Homo sapiens: one gene and its partners. The protein of the gene in region 1 interacts with the protein of each later gene in a pairwise test. Each region holds a gene or a part of one and is shown on either strand. Other genes may lie near its edges.

Region 1 (3,592 bases):
AAGAAAAGTTCATTTACTTAAGAATCTCGGCCAGGCGCGGTGGCTCACGCCTGCAATCCCAGCACTTCGGGAGGCCAAGGCTGGCAGATCACCTGAGTCCCGGAGTTCGAGACCAGCCTGACTGACCACCATGGAGAAACCCGGTCTCTACTAAAAATACAAAATTAGCTGAGCGTGGTGGTGCATGCCTGTAATCCCAGCTTCTCGGGAGACTGAGGCAGGAGAATCGCTTGAACCCGGGAGGCAGAGGTTGCAATGAGCTGAGATTGTGCCACTGCACTCCAGCCTGGGCAACAAGAGCAAAACTGTCTCAGAAAAAAAAAATTGCAATATTACCAGAATTCCTTTGGGACTGTCTCCTGAAATTTGAGGTCAGTCTTAACTTTCCTCTAGAACTCAGCTCAAGAAGGCTGGGTGAGGTGGCTCATGCCTATAATCCCAGCACTTTGGGAGGCTGAGGCAGGAGGACTGCTTGAAGCCAGGAGTTCAAGACCAACCTGGGCAACACAATGAGACCCCATCTCTACAAAAAATAAAAATTAGCCAGGTGTGGTGGCACACACCTGTAGTCCCAGCTACTCGGGAGGCTGAGGTGGAAGGCCTGCTAGAACCCAGGAGGTCAAGGCTGCAATGAGCTATGATTGTGCCCCTGGGCGACAGAGTGAGACCCCATCTCAAAAAAAAAAAAAAGGCACCTAGCTCAAGAACCTCCCTCATACAGTCATACAGGCCAGGCACGACGGCTCATGCCTGTAATCCCAGCACTTTGAGAAGCCAAGGCAGGCGGATCACCTGAGGTCTGAAGTTCGAGACCAGCCTGGCTAGAAACCCCATCTCTACTAAAAATAGGAAAATTAGCTGGGTATGGTGGCATGCGCCTGTAATCCCAGCTACTGGGTCAAGCAGGAGAACTGCCTGACCTGGGAAGCAGAAGCTGCAGTGAGCCAAGATCATGTCACCGCACTCCAGCCTGGGTGAGAGAGTGAGATTCCATCTCAAACAAAACAAAACAAAAAAACTCCAGGTGGGGTGGCTCACACATGTAAGCCCAGCACTTTGGGAGGCCAAGACAGCCAGATCACCTGAGGTCAGGAGTGTGAGACCAGCCTGGTCAACATGGTGAAATCCAGTCTCTACTAAAAATACAAAAAAAATTAGCCGGGTGTGGTGGCGCATGCCTGTAATTCCAGCCATTCTGGAGGCTGAGGCCTGAGAATCACTTGAAGCCAGGAGGCGGAGGCTGCAGTGAGCCGAGATAAAGCCACTGCACTCCAGGCTGGGTGACAGAGACTCTGACTCAAAACAAAACAAAAACAAAAAAGAACCTCCCTCATTCAAATACCCTCAGAATCCCATAGCATTTACACTTTGCCCCTCCCATTTTTATCTATCCTTTGTCCTGTATCTCCAACCAATTAAGCCTTTTGGGGCTGTGGTCAACATGTTCGGTAACTGTTAATAATGTATTCACTGGGAAATAAGAGTATATAGTCTTGGCTGGGCATTGTGGCTCACACTTGTAATCTTATCACTTTGGGAGACCAGCCTGGCCAACATCATAAAACCCTGTCTCTACTAACAATATAAAAAATTGGCTGGGCGGTGGGGCGCGCCTGTAATCCCAGCTACTTGGTAGGCTGAGGCAGGAGAACCGCTTGACCTGGGAGGTGGTGGCTGCAGTGAGCTTGGATCATGCTACTGGACTCCAGCCAGGGTGACACAGTGAGATTCCATCTGGGAAAAAAAAAAAAAAAAAGTCCAGGCATGCCAGGCATGGTGGCTCACCATTTAAGCCAAGCACTTTGGGAGGCCCAGGCAGGCAGATCATCTGAGGCCGCGAGTTTAAGACCAGCCTGGCCAATACAATGAAACCCTGTCTCTACTAAAACTACAAAAATTAGCTGGGTATTGTGGCCGGACAGGGTGGTTCACACCTGTAATCCCAGCACTTTGGGAGGCCAAGGCAGGCAGATCACGAGGTCAGGAGATCGAGACCATCCTGACTAACACGGTGAAACCCCGTCTCTACTAAAAAAAAAATACAAAAAATTAGCTGGGAGTGGTCGTGGACGCCTGTAGTCCCAGCTACTCAGGAGGCTGAGGCAGGAGAATGGCATGAACCTGAGAGGCGGAGCTTGCAGTGAGCTGAGATAGCGCCACTGCACTCCAGCCTAGGTGACAGAGCGAGACTCCGTCTCAAAAAAGAAAATTAGCTGGGCATGGTGGCGCATGCCTGTAATCCCGGGATCCCAGCCATTCCAGAGGCTGAGGTATTGGTTGAACCTGGGAGGCGGAGGTTGCAGTGAGCTGAGATCGCGCCACTGCACTCCAGCCTGGGTGACAAAGCGAGACTCCGTCTCAAAAAAAAAAATTAGCTGGGCGTGGTGGCGCATGCCTGTAATCCCGGGATCCCAGCCATTCCAGAGGCTGAGGTATTGGTTGAACCTGGGAGGCGGAGGTTGCAGTGAGCTGAGATGGAGCCACTGCACTCCAGGCTGGGTGATAGAGCCGAGACTCTGTCACAAAAACAAAACAAAACAACAACAAAAAGGAATCTCTCTCATGCAGATACCCTTTAGAATCCCATAGCATTTACTCTTTGCCCCCACCATTTTTATCTATCCTTTGTCTGCCCTGTATCTCTAACCAGTTAAGCCTTTTGGGGCTATAGTCAATATTTTCAATAACTGTCAATAATGTATTCACGGGAAATAAGAGTATATAGTCTTGGCTGGGCACGGTGGCTCACGCCTGTAATCCCAGCACTTTGGGAGGCCAAGGCAGTTGGATCACTTGAGGTCAGGGGTTCGAGACCAGCCTGGCCAACATGGTAAAACCCTGTCTCTACTAACAATACAAAATATTAGCTGGGCGTGGTGGGGTGCGCCTGTAATACCAGCTACTCAGGAGGCTGAGGCACGAGAGTCGCTTGAACCCGGGAGGCAGAGGCTGTGGTGAGTTGAGATCGTGCCACCATACTCCAGCCTGGACAACAGAGCAAGACTCTGTCTCCCAAAAAAAAAAAAAAAAAAACCCAGGTGCAGTGGCTCATGCCTGCAATCCCAGCACTTTGGGAGGCCGAGGCGGCAGATCACAAGGTCAGGAGCTCGAGACCAGCCTGGCCAATACGGTAAAAACCCGTCTCTACTAAAAATACAAAAACAAAAACAAAAAAAAACAAAAAAAAACATTAGCCATGCATGCTGGCACATGCCTGTAATCCCAGCTACTCAGGAGGCTGAGACAGGAGAATTGCTTGAACCCGGGAGGCGGAGGTTGCGGTGAGCCGAGATGGCGCATTGCACTCCAGCCTGGGCGACAGAGGGAGACTCCGTCTAAAAAAAAAAAAAAAAAAAAAGGTGTATAGTCTTTAAGAAGGGGTGACAGGCCAAGCATGGTGGCTCACGTCTGTAATCCCAGCACTTCAGGTGGCCAAGGCCGGAGGATCACTTCAGTCCAGGAGTTCGAGACCAGCCTGGGCAACATGGTGAAACCCCGTCTCTACAAAAAATTACATAAATTAGCTGGGCATGGTGGCAGACGCCTTTAGTCCCTGCTACTTGGAAGGCTGAGGTAGGAGGATCATCTAAGC
Region 2 (3,592 bases), on another chromosome or scaffold:
AATGAAAACATCTTTCCAAACTTCTAACTTCATCCCTGATACCACACTCCAGACCTTCGGCATCCTAAAACAAGGAAATCTCCCACTGTAGCAAAAAGCATGTTGCTCTGACCCTGAGGGAATTTAGCCTGGGGGATATGACATTTATTGAGTTACTTTTCATTTCATTTCATCCTATACCACTCATGTAGCCCTTGTCCTTGTTCATTTCCAATCCAGAACACAGTATAAAACAAAACACAAATTCAGGAGACAGAAAATAACTCCATTTAATTTTGGTTTTTGTTCCAAAAATAGACTTGAGGATAGGGGTTCTCTGTCTCTTTCTACTCTAAAAGCCCATCTGAGGTCTGCAGCAATAACTGTGAACAACGATGTCTTTTTCTTGGCTACCTCCTGAGAACTACCTCCTCCTTCTCAGCCAGCCATACCTGCCACTCTGAATTTGCTCCACCAGGCAGTCCTCAACTGCCACTCTTTCCAAAGTAACATAATCCCAAAAGCATCTTCACTGCAGCAGAAAGGCATTTTTTGTCTGCTGGTAATTAACAAAGCAATCATAGTCAAATTCAGATTGTGGTTTATCCACACAAATCATGTTTTTAAATCTACCAACTCTGTACAATCTTGGATAAGCTATTTATTAGCCTTTTATAGATGAGGAAACAAGAATTATGGTGACAATCAAAAGAGACAGCTTGTGTGGAATACTTAATAGCGTACCTGGCACCAAGTAAATGCTTAATAAATGGTAGTTATTACAATATTTACTATTAAAAGAACCTACAGAACTATGTTTACTCACTTGCTTTTATGAACACCTGTCTCTTATTTAGTCCTACTTTTCACATAGCTTAAATAAGCTCCTGAAATTAAAATGCTTAATCATTCTTCTATGGAGACAGTAAGAACATGTGTTATTTCAGAGGAGGGACATGCAGAGTTCTACTGGGAGGGAGTGAGAAGGGAGTATCACTTAGTCCTTAGCACATGTAAGAGGTAGCCTAGGAAAGAGCAGGTGAGCCCAGGTTGAGGATAACCCCGTGAGGCAATGCAAATGGATCAACATTTCCAAGATAGATTTACATGTATATAGCAAGGCCAATACCACAGAAAATATGTAGTCACCCCTCAATATCTGCAGGGGGGCTGGCTCCAGGACCCCCAAGGATACCAAAATCTGAGGATGCTCAAGTCCCTGGTATAACATGGCATAGTATTTGCATATAACCTATGTACATCCTGCCATGTACTTTAAATCATCTGTAGATTGCTTATAATACCTAATACAATGTAAATACCATGTAAATAGTTCTTAGACTGGGTTTCTTATTTGAATTATTTTTTGGAATATTTTCCAAATATTTTTCCAAATATTTCCAATCCATAATTGATAGAATCTGCAGATGTGGAACCTGCAGATATGCAAGGCTGACTATATTCTTTTAATATATGAATACGAATAATAAATTAAGGAACAACTACCTTTGGAAAACATCTTTTTCATAAATTATTCTAGTTTCTATGTACAGAAAAGAATACTGGTACATGTCACAATATGCTATGAAGAAATGCTTCTTGTTTTATGACTTTAGGTTTTGTTTCTTTTTAGCAAAAAGAGAAAATAAGATGGGGGAGGAAAGCCCAAGCATAATAATTAGTGTCATTATTTCTACACTTAGTAGATATCAGTAAACAGAAAATAAAGCTTGCTGCATTCCTTGACATAAAGCCAGGATTCTGGTATATTTTGTGTACCTTTGGGTTAACGTAACAGAAAGTGATCATATTAGTTTCCTCACTCATAAAAAAGGGATAATAGTACCTACTTCAAAGGGTTGTTGTGAGGATTAAATGAGTTGATATTTCTGAAGTGCTTAGAAAAGTGTCTGGCCCATAGGGAAGAATTCATAAAGGTTTGATTGACAGAGAAGAGCTGGAAGTCAAAATTACTGCAATCAGACTAAACAAGTTCTCAGTAAACCAATATACAGGAAGAAAAAAGGCCAGAGAAGACCACACAGAAACCTTTTATTGTAGATTTAAAATTCAAGAGTTTGAATAAACAACAATTCTTCAGTATAACTGTGCCCAACACATCACATGGTGATCAAATTATGTAAAACACCATGTCTGCCTTGAATGACTATAGCTATAGAAGAGGGAAGATGATTCACAACAGACTGATCAGAAACACAACTTCTCACTCAAATACAATATGTTGGCCAAACACACAGTTTTATTTTATAGTTCCATTGCCATCTTGATTATCTAAATCATGTACCTGACCAATTAGATAACATTTCTCATGTGGAAAAATTTTATTATTGGGCCTTAATTTGTGGTTTACAATGCTTAAAGTGCACTTAAACCACAATTCAAGAGAGTCACGTTTTAGTTAATTGGGAGGAAAAATGGAGGCAAGTGACCAGGACCAGCACCAGCAACTCTTTTGTAGGACTAGCCAGCCTCTGGAAATGGTCACTAGGTAAAGACCTCAGGTAATCTGCTTTAGAGTCTGGACCATAAAGTGTTAAAAGAGATTATTAGAGCCATCACTGTCCCCCAGCTTCCTGCCCCAGACTCCCTGACCCTGCCCTCCCAACCACCACCACCGCACCCCCACCCCTGCACCACCTTTGGCCACTATGCCAGCAGACTCTCAGTATGTATTGATCTCTTTAACACCTTTTAACTCACTGCTGCCTCTACCTCCTAGTTCTTTGGTTTTCACTTCAACCGATTATAAGATACAGAAGCAAGGATCAAGTTCAAAACATGTATGGAAATAAGCAATCACCTAACAGGATCCCAGATTCTACTATCCAACAAACCATGTCTATAAATACTCAAAATGCAAAATATAAAGATTATAATGTGTTTTTTATGCCCACTATTTTCTGATCAAATTACAAATTAACCAAATCATTTTTAAAATAAGCTCTGGAAATATAAAACTTTTTAAAAAAACATTACAAAATTAACTGGTAACTTTTGAAAAAAGGAAGGCTGAAAACAAAGGAGAGTATTTGGGTATCATACATTAAGAATTACATATAAAATAAATAATCCTAATAGCTGAGAAACAAGTAAGTCCCCAACTATAAGAGGTTGGTTGACTTTCATCAAGCAACATAGAATATATAGAAGGAAGCATTTGATAAACATTTGATGACTGATGTCCAAAACCATACTCCATAACTGCTACAAAAAATTGGCACATCAGGAAAACAATCGTTTATCTTGAACTATGTTTATATCACTTAAATTATGTACAATACTGTATAAAAGTATACATTTTCCCCAAGCACTTGTGGCTTACCAAACAGCTTAAGACATCTTATCTCCATTTTAATTGAAAACATGAAAAATGAAACACACGTCCACAAAAGTTTTTCAGCTTCTATCAATCACTATTAATAATCCATGTCACTAAACACCACAACCTATCACCATGACCATGTGTCTCCTGTGCCTTTTCTCAGCACAGTAGTTCTGACAAATACCCACTGTGCACAGCAGGTCAGTTAACAATACCTGATATTTACAGCATTTTGTCTTGAGGTCTCAGGGCCACACTATTCTCCCCAGC
Region 3 (3,592 bases), on another chromosome or scaffold:
ATAATATTGTTCTTAGCTGTAGACTCATTTATTCTTGCTGTGTAGTATTCCACTGCGCCTGGTTACTCTTGATTATATGTTGTACATGGTATTTGAAAACTTATGGGAATTTTAGCTGGGCATGGTGGTGCACGCCTGTGGTCCCAGCTACTCGGGAGGCTGAGGTGGGAGGATTGCTCGAGCCTGGGAGGCGAAGGTTGCAGTAAGCCAAGATCACACCACTGCGCTCCAGCCTGGGTGACAGATTGAGACCCCATCTCAAAAAAAAAAAAAAAAAAAAAAAAGAAAAGAAAAGAAAATGTACTTATAGGAATCTTTGAGGCCAGGATGATGGTATCATTTTCCAGAGAGGACTTAGTTTCTCCCTGGTCCCTAGGAGTAGGGGAGTCTACTAGTAGGAGACTAATTAAAGTTTAAGGCTTGAGCTTTGCTGGACCACCTGCATAGATGATGCAAAGCTCAGCTGTGTTTTGCTTTTACCACTACTTACTTTTTTTTTTGAGATGGAGTCTCGCTCTGTCGCCCAGGCTGGAGTGTAGTGGCACAATCTCAGCTCACTGCAATCTCCGCCTCCCAGGTTCACACCATTCTCCTGCCTCAGCCTCCCGAGTAGCTGGGACTACAGGTGCCTGCCACCACGTCCGGCTAATGTTTTGTATTTTTAGTAGAGATGGAGTTTCACCATGTTAGTCAGGATGGTCTCAATCTCCTGACCTTGTGATCTGCCCGCCTCGGCCTCCCAAAGTGCTGGGATTACAGGCGTGAGCCACTGCGCCCGGCCACTCTTTTTTTTTTTTAATTAAAAAAATTTTTTTGATTGGGCACAGTGGCTTATACCAATAGTTCCAGCACTTTGGGAGGCTGAGGTGGGAGGAGCACTTAAGCTCAGGAGTTGAGACCAGCTTGGGCAGCACAGTGAGACCCTGCCTCTATTCTGTAAAAAACAAAAAAACAAAAAATTTAATTTAAAAAAATTTTATGGCTGGGTATGGTGGCTCATACCTGTAATCCCAGCACTTTGGGAGGCTGAGGCAGGTGGATCACTTGAGGTCAGGAGTTCAAGACCAGCCTGGCCAACATGGTGAAACCCTGTCTCTACTAAAAACAAAAATTAGCTGGGCGTGGTCGCGCATGCCTGTAATCCCAGCTACCTGGGAGGCTGAGGTAGGAGAATCGTTTGAACCAAGGAGGCGGAGTTTGCAGTGAACCAAGATCGTGCCACTGCACTCCAGCCTGGGCGACAGAGCAAGACTCCACCTCAAAAAAAAAAAAAAAGTTATGAGTACATAGTAGGTATACATATTTATTGGGTTTATGAGATATTTTGATGCAGGGATACACTGTAATAATCACTTCAGGGTAAACAGAGTAGCCATCACCTCAAGCATTTATCATTTTTTTGTGTTACAAACATTCCTATTCTTTTAGTTACTTTAAAATGTACAGTAGATTATTGTTGACTGTAGTCACTCTGTTGTGCTATCAAATACTAGATTTTATTCCTTATATCTAACTTTATTTTTGTACCCTTACTTACTTTTATTTCTGGTTGATCCTTACCTTGAAAGTGTAGTCTTTGGGATTCCAGCTTAAAATGGGGGTGTTATCAGAGTCCTCATCTCTGAGGGCCCCTGAGCTTCGACTATCATCTCTCCCAACCCCAGTCAAAGCCCAGAATGTTGCCTAAAGGACAGCTTTTGGCCAAGCCAACAGGGCCAAAAAAAGGGCCAGCTGGTTGGAGTCCTGAGTACCCATCAGGCCTTGCGGGAGGTGCTGTAACTGCCTATGCTACTGTCCTCTTATTTGGGCAGGCATTGGGTCAAGGAGGAGCAGAACAGACCCTTTCGTGGTCAGAATGTTTGCCTGGCTTATGTCCCCAGACAAACCAGGGCTCATCAGTCTATTGTTCTGCTTTTCATTCCAGCCTAATTCAGTGGTTTGAGACAGCACCAAGTCGGACCTGCCCACAGTGCCGAATCCAGGTGAGAGTATTGGGGTGGGACCACCTCAACTGAAGAGATCTCCTTAGCAGAGAGCAGGAATGTGAAAAGAGCTCTGAAACTGCAATATCTCTGACCTTTTTTGGACCCTCCTGGTTTAAGGCCAGTTGAGCCTCACTTGTGCCCTTGAGTGTTTGGGAGGTCTGCTTACACCCACAGGTAGCTGGCAGATGGACTTGTTGCCTGGGCCAGTTTTCACTTGGGTAGATTTGGCTGGCCTCCTTCCCTGTCTTTTCATCAGTGACTCCGCACCTAGAGTTCAGGTATCTTTTGAGCACTTAACCGTGTAGGTCTGTAGTAATATGACTTCAGTGACCACGAAACCAGCAGCCCCAACTTGGGGTACCTGCAGGAGTAAAGAGGTCTTTTGACTCTAAAGGATGTACTTTGAAAAATTAGGTCTGAGAACAGGCCTGACATGCATGTCAGGCAGGTAGTCAGACCCATGTACAACACTCTCCTCCTTGCGCATGACCCAGCTACACAATCATACTCTTACCTTGTTCTCCCATCCAGGTTGGCAAAAGAACCATTATCAATAAGCTCTTCTTTGATCTTGCCCAGGAGGAGGAGAATGTCTTGGATGCAGAATTCTTAAAGGTACCCAGAATTTATCTGATTCTACTGAACTCCAAGCCTTGTGCGAGTTCACTTTTCTTTTTTCTTTTCTTTTCTTTTTTCTCTTCTCTTCTCTTCTCTTCTCTTTTCTCTTTTCTTTTCTTTTCTTTTCTTTTCTTTTTTTAGAGACAGGGTCTTACTTTGTTGCCCACACTGGAGTGCAGTGGTGCAATCATAGCTCACTATAACCTCAAACTCCTGAGTTCAAGGGATCTCCCCACCTCAGCCTACCTAGTAGCTAGGACTGTAGGGGTGCACCACCATGCTCGGTTAATTTTTTTATTTTATTTATTTATTTATTTATTTATTTATTTATTTATTTATTTTGAGATGAAGTCTCACTCTGTCACCCAGGCTGGAGTGTAGTGGCGTGATCTTGGCTCACTGCAACCTCTGCCTCCTAGGTTAAAACAATTCTCCTGCTTCAGCCTCCCGAGTAGCTGGGACTACAGGCACGTGCCACCATACCCGGCTAGTTTTGTGTTTTTAGTACAGACGGGGTTTCACCTTGTTGGCCAGGCTGGTCTCGAACTCCTGACCTGAAGTGATCCACCCACCTCGGCCTCCCAAAGTGCTGAGATTGCAGGCGTGGGCCACCGTGCCCAGCCCTAATTTATAAAAAAAAATTTTTATAGAGATAGGGCCTTGCTATGTTACCCAGGCTGGTCTTGAACTCTTGGGCTCGAGCAATCCTCCCACCTTGGCCTCCCAAAGGGCTGAGATTACAGGCATGAGCCACTGTGCCTGGCCTGGGAGTTCACTTTCTATTTCCACATAAGTGGAGGGTTCCTGGAATATGGAGATGAAGTTATAGAGGTGAGACTTGGTACAGTTTTCAAGGTGGGGACACAAAAATCAGAGGACAACTGATGAGACACAGTCATCAGAGAAATGCACTGTGAGGGAAGAGGGGAGCTGCTTGACTGTAAACCCTCCCTTTGGGATTTCAGGTCAATTCCAACCTGAATTCTCTC
Region 4 (3,592 bases), on another chromosome or scaffold:
GATTTAATGAGCAGCCAGGGTTGATAATCGCCACTATGAAGTATTTTTTTTAAATGGTAAAAGCTATTTAGCTTTAATTTAGAATAATGTCTGTATTTATGTAATATTTGAAACTGCCATTTCTAGGAAACTATTAAATTTAGTCTAATATAAAATAGAGCTAGTTTATATATAGCTTTGATAATTGTTCCATTTTATATCATATACTTACATGATTCATCCTATAAGGAAATTCCTTTGGAAAGGCATATGAAAATCTAGTTTTTACTGCAGAAAATAAAAAAAAAATTTAAACTGAGAAAATGGGAAATAAATTAACTCAAAATTCCTTTAACAGAGCAGAATATTAGAGGGTAGAGCAAAATTATTTTCAGTAGGAATTCTTGGCAACACTTACGGACGCAGATTTTTATTTACTTTCAGGGAAGGGGAAAGACTGGGGGGCAGGACACTCTACACAGCTTCAATTTTATATTTACTACCTTAAGAAAGGATTCTGATGTTTAAAAAAGAAAAAGATCAGGAAAAAAAAATCACTGGCTTTTATCATTTCTAAAATCTTTTCAGCTACAGAATGGTATTCTTCTGTTTTCCAGTGACTGAGCTTAGAAGGAACACAGGGGTTACATATGTGTTTACAATATATACAATTGGTAAAAAATATACATATAAAATATTGGGAGGATAGTACACCAAAAAAATGTTAACAGTGGTTATTTGTGAGATTTAAGAACTTTTTACTAATCTGCACTTTCTAAACTTTTTACAATGACCAGGTATTTATCAAAATATATATTTTAATAAAAGCATTAATATATATGCAAAGGTCTCGAGTTACTCATAAAGTAGTAGTAGTAACACATAAAGTTAGTACTCTATTATCTATTACTTTATTGGTTAGTCACTAAATAAAGTACAAATGAAAAAAAAATGTTAACCATCAATCCCCCATCTCCTTAAAATGGTGTGAGCATATACACATAAGTACTATTTGAGAAACTGTATTCAAGCCATTATGACACATTTAATTCAACCAAGTAACTACTGACAGGTCCTAAAAAATGTTTAGTGTCAGCTTCCATTTGTACAAAGCCCAAGTGATTTCACTGAAATTAAAAGAAATTCCATTTCTGGCCAGGCACAGTGGCTCATGCCTGTAATCCCAGCACTTTGGGAGGCCAAGGTGGGTGGATCACCTGAGGTCAGGAGTTCGAGACCTCCTGGACAACATGGTGAAACCCCATCTCTACTAAAAATACAAAAATTAGGCGAGTGTAGTGGCATGCACCTGTAGTCCCGGCTACTCGGGAGGCCGAGGCAGGAGAATCCCTTGAACCCGGGAGGCAGAGGGTGCAGTGAGCTGAGAACACACCACTGCACTCCAGTCTGGGTGACAGTGAGACTCCATCTCAAAAAAAAAAAAAGAAAGAAATTCCATTTCTTCTATGCACTATGTTTTCAAAAAGATTTGTTTTGCAAATTCAGTGCCCTACAGCTAATTTAGATGTGTAATATCTGCCAGGATTTGAAACCTAGAATAATTTAAACTTGACATTAGTAAATTTATAATCTTTCCTTTCTTCTCTCCTTTATTTAAATTTAAGACGTACCTATTAAGGTTTCTGAGTTTTACAAATCCTTGTGATGTAAAGTATACCAGCACAACAGGTTCTTATATAATGGTAGACAATCAACAAAGTAAAATTATCTCTGTATATAAAACAAATCTACATCCCCATCCCCTGGACCTTGACACCTAACACCTCTATTGAGAATATATTTACCTGATACTGTCACATGTCTGTTACTCCATGCTAAAACTGCTCTGCATTTTTTTCTGTCTTTTAATCCTTTTCCTCCAACTTGGAGAAAAATACATCCCTCCTCTCTATTGTTTGTCTTACCACTTATACACTTATTATCATCTATTCAATTGATAACTCCTGCTATTTTTTTCATCTTTAACCTTCCTCCTTCAGTAAATCTTCCATCACATACTAATATGCTCAAATTTCCCTTGAAAAAAGCAAAACAAACTCTACCTAATTATATTCCTCTGCCTTTTATTTTTGTAGACTCAAACACTGAGATCATGCACAGTTCTCTTATACCCACCGTTATTGACTTCCCAGCCTCCAGAACTGTGAGAAATAAATGTCTGTTGTGAAAGCCACCCAGTCTATGGTACTTTCTTATATTAGCCCAAGTGGACTAAGACATGCCTTCACCCAGCTTCCCCTACTATTAACATCTTACATTAGTATGGCGCATTTGTTACAATTACTGACCCAATATTGAAATGTTATTATTAACTAAACTGTACTTTTTTCAGATCTCCTTAGTTTGTACCAATGTCCTTTTTCTATCCTAGGGTCTTATCTAGGATACCACATTATATTTATTTGTCATGTTTCCTTAGACTGTTTGGCTGTGACAGTTTTCTAGCCTTTCCTTGTTTTTGATGACTTTGACAGTTTTTAGGAGTACCAGTCAAGTATTTTGTCAAATGCCCCTCTACTGGAATTTGTCTGATGTTTTTCTCATTAGACTAGAGAAAATGGGTTTTTGACAGGAAGACCACCGAGATAAAGTACCATCTTCATCATATCACATCAATGATACATGATATTAATGTGATTTATCACTGTTGCTACTGACCTTGATCGCCTGGCTAAGGCAGTATTTCTCAGGTTTCCCCACTGTAAAGTTACCTTTTTCCTCCCTTTCCATATGTACACACTAGCAGGAAGTTAACATGTATAGCCAGCACCTTAGGAGTGGGGAGTTATGCTCCCTCTACTTGAGGGCAGAATAGTTACATATATTATTTGGAATTCTTCAGCATGGAAGACATGTCTCTTCTCCCTCATTTATTTATATCAGTATGGACTCATGGATATTTAGTTTATACTTTGAGTTATTATCCAATGCTATTTTTAAAATTTTGATGCTCAAATTCTTTCAGCTTTGGTCAGTGGGAGCTCTCTTAGTTAGCTCCTATATCCTTTTGACATATCCTCATCAATAGACGTTTTTGTTTTTCTTGTTTGTTTTGAATACTTCTTTATTACTGGCATTAAGAGATGGTCCAGGTCCATCTTGTGTATTTCTTGCCCCAGTCCTAGAATCAACCATTTCTCCAAGGAGCCCTGGTACCTTTTATTGGAGAATGATATTAGAAACCAAGATATGGGTACTAGGTGAGCTCATTGCTACTGGGATGTCATTGCTTATAGACCCTTTCAGCTGAGAAAGCCAAGAAATACACACACTAACCCATGTATATACACTTATCTATAAATATTTCTATATGTAACTAACCATCTATATTGTATTAAGGTACACGAGTTCATGCTGTTTCCAGCCCTTTGCTTATCTGTAAATTCCCGCTCCAACAATGAGAAACCCGGCTCTCAAACATTTGCTATTGATTTACGTAATTGTTTAATTCCCATATACATGTATAGCATTATCAGAATTGTTAACTTGTACACCCATGGGTAATAACTTTATCAACTAGAGTACAGTGCTTATGTGTAGTTCCTTTTGCCTTTACTCTTACACTCTTAATCATTTCCAAAGCTACTTATGT

The links. The genes of interacting proteins can lie anywhere in the genome.
Region 2: the proteins of UBE2K (region 1) and RNF182 interact in binary tests that used the Homo sapiens proteins (3 or more experiments, as listed by UniProt).
Region 3: the proteins of UBE2K (region 1) and TRAIP interact in binary tests that used the Homo sapiens proteins (3 or more experiments, as listed by UniProt).
Region 4: the proteins of UBE2K (region 1) and CCNC interact in binary tests that used the Homo sapiens proteins (3 or more experiments, as listed by UniProt).

The regions. Positions count from the first base shown.
Region 1 is NC_000004.12:39,704,636-39,708,227, reverse strand, and holds part of UBE2K (ubiquitin-conjugating enzyme E2 K), read right to left. Parts: intron 1-3,592. UniProt on the Homo sapiens protein: Accepts ubiquitin from the E1 complex and catalyzes its covalent attachment to other proteins. In vitro, in the presence or in the absence of BRCA1-BARD1 E3 ubiquitin-protein ligase complex, catalyzes the synthesis of 'Lys-48'-linked polyubiquitin chains.
Region 2 is NC_000006.12:13,927,892-13,931,483, reverse strand, and holds part of RNF182 (E3 ubiquitin-protein ligase RNF182), read right to left. Parts: intron 1-3,592. UniProt on the Homo sapiens protein: E3 ubiquitin-protein ligase that mediates the ubiquitination of ATP6V0C and targets it to degradation via the ubiquitin-proteasome pathway.
Region 3 is NC_000003.12:49,846,533-49,850,124, reverse strand, and holds part of TRAIP (E3 ubiquitin-protein ligase TRAIP), read left to right. Parts: intron 1-1,924; coding exon 1,925-1,982; intron 1,983-2,516; coding exon 2,517-2,600; intron 2,601-3,592. UniProt on the Homo sapiens protein: E3 ubiquitin ligase required to protect genome stability in response to replication stress.
Region 4 is NC_000006.12:99,551,629-99,555,220, forward strand, and holds part of CCNC (cyclin-C), read right to left. Parts: intron 2,174-3,592; exon of another isoform or gene 268-2,173; coding exon 212-267; exon of another isoform or gene 1-211. UniProt on the Homo sapiens protein: Component of the Mediator complex, a coactivator involved in regulated gene transcription of nearly all RNA polymerase II-dependent genes.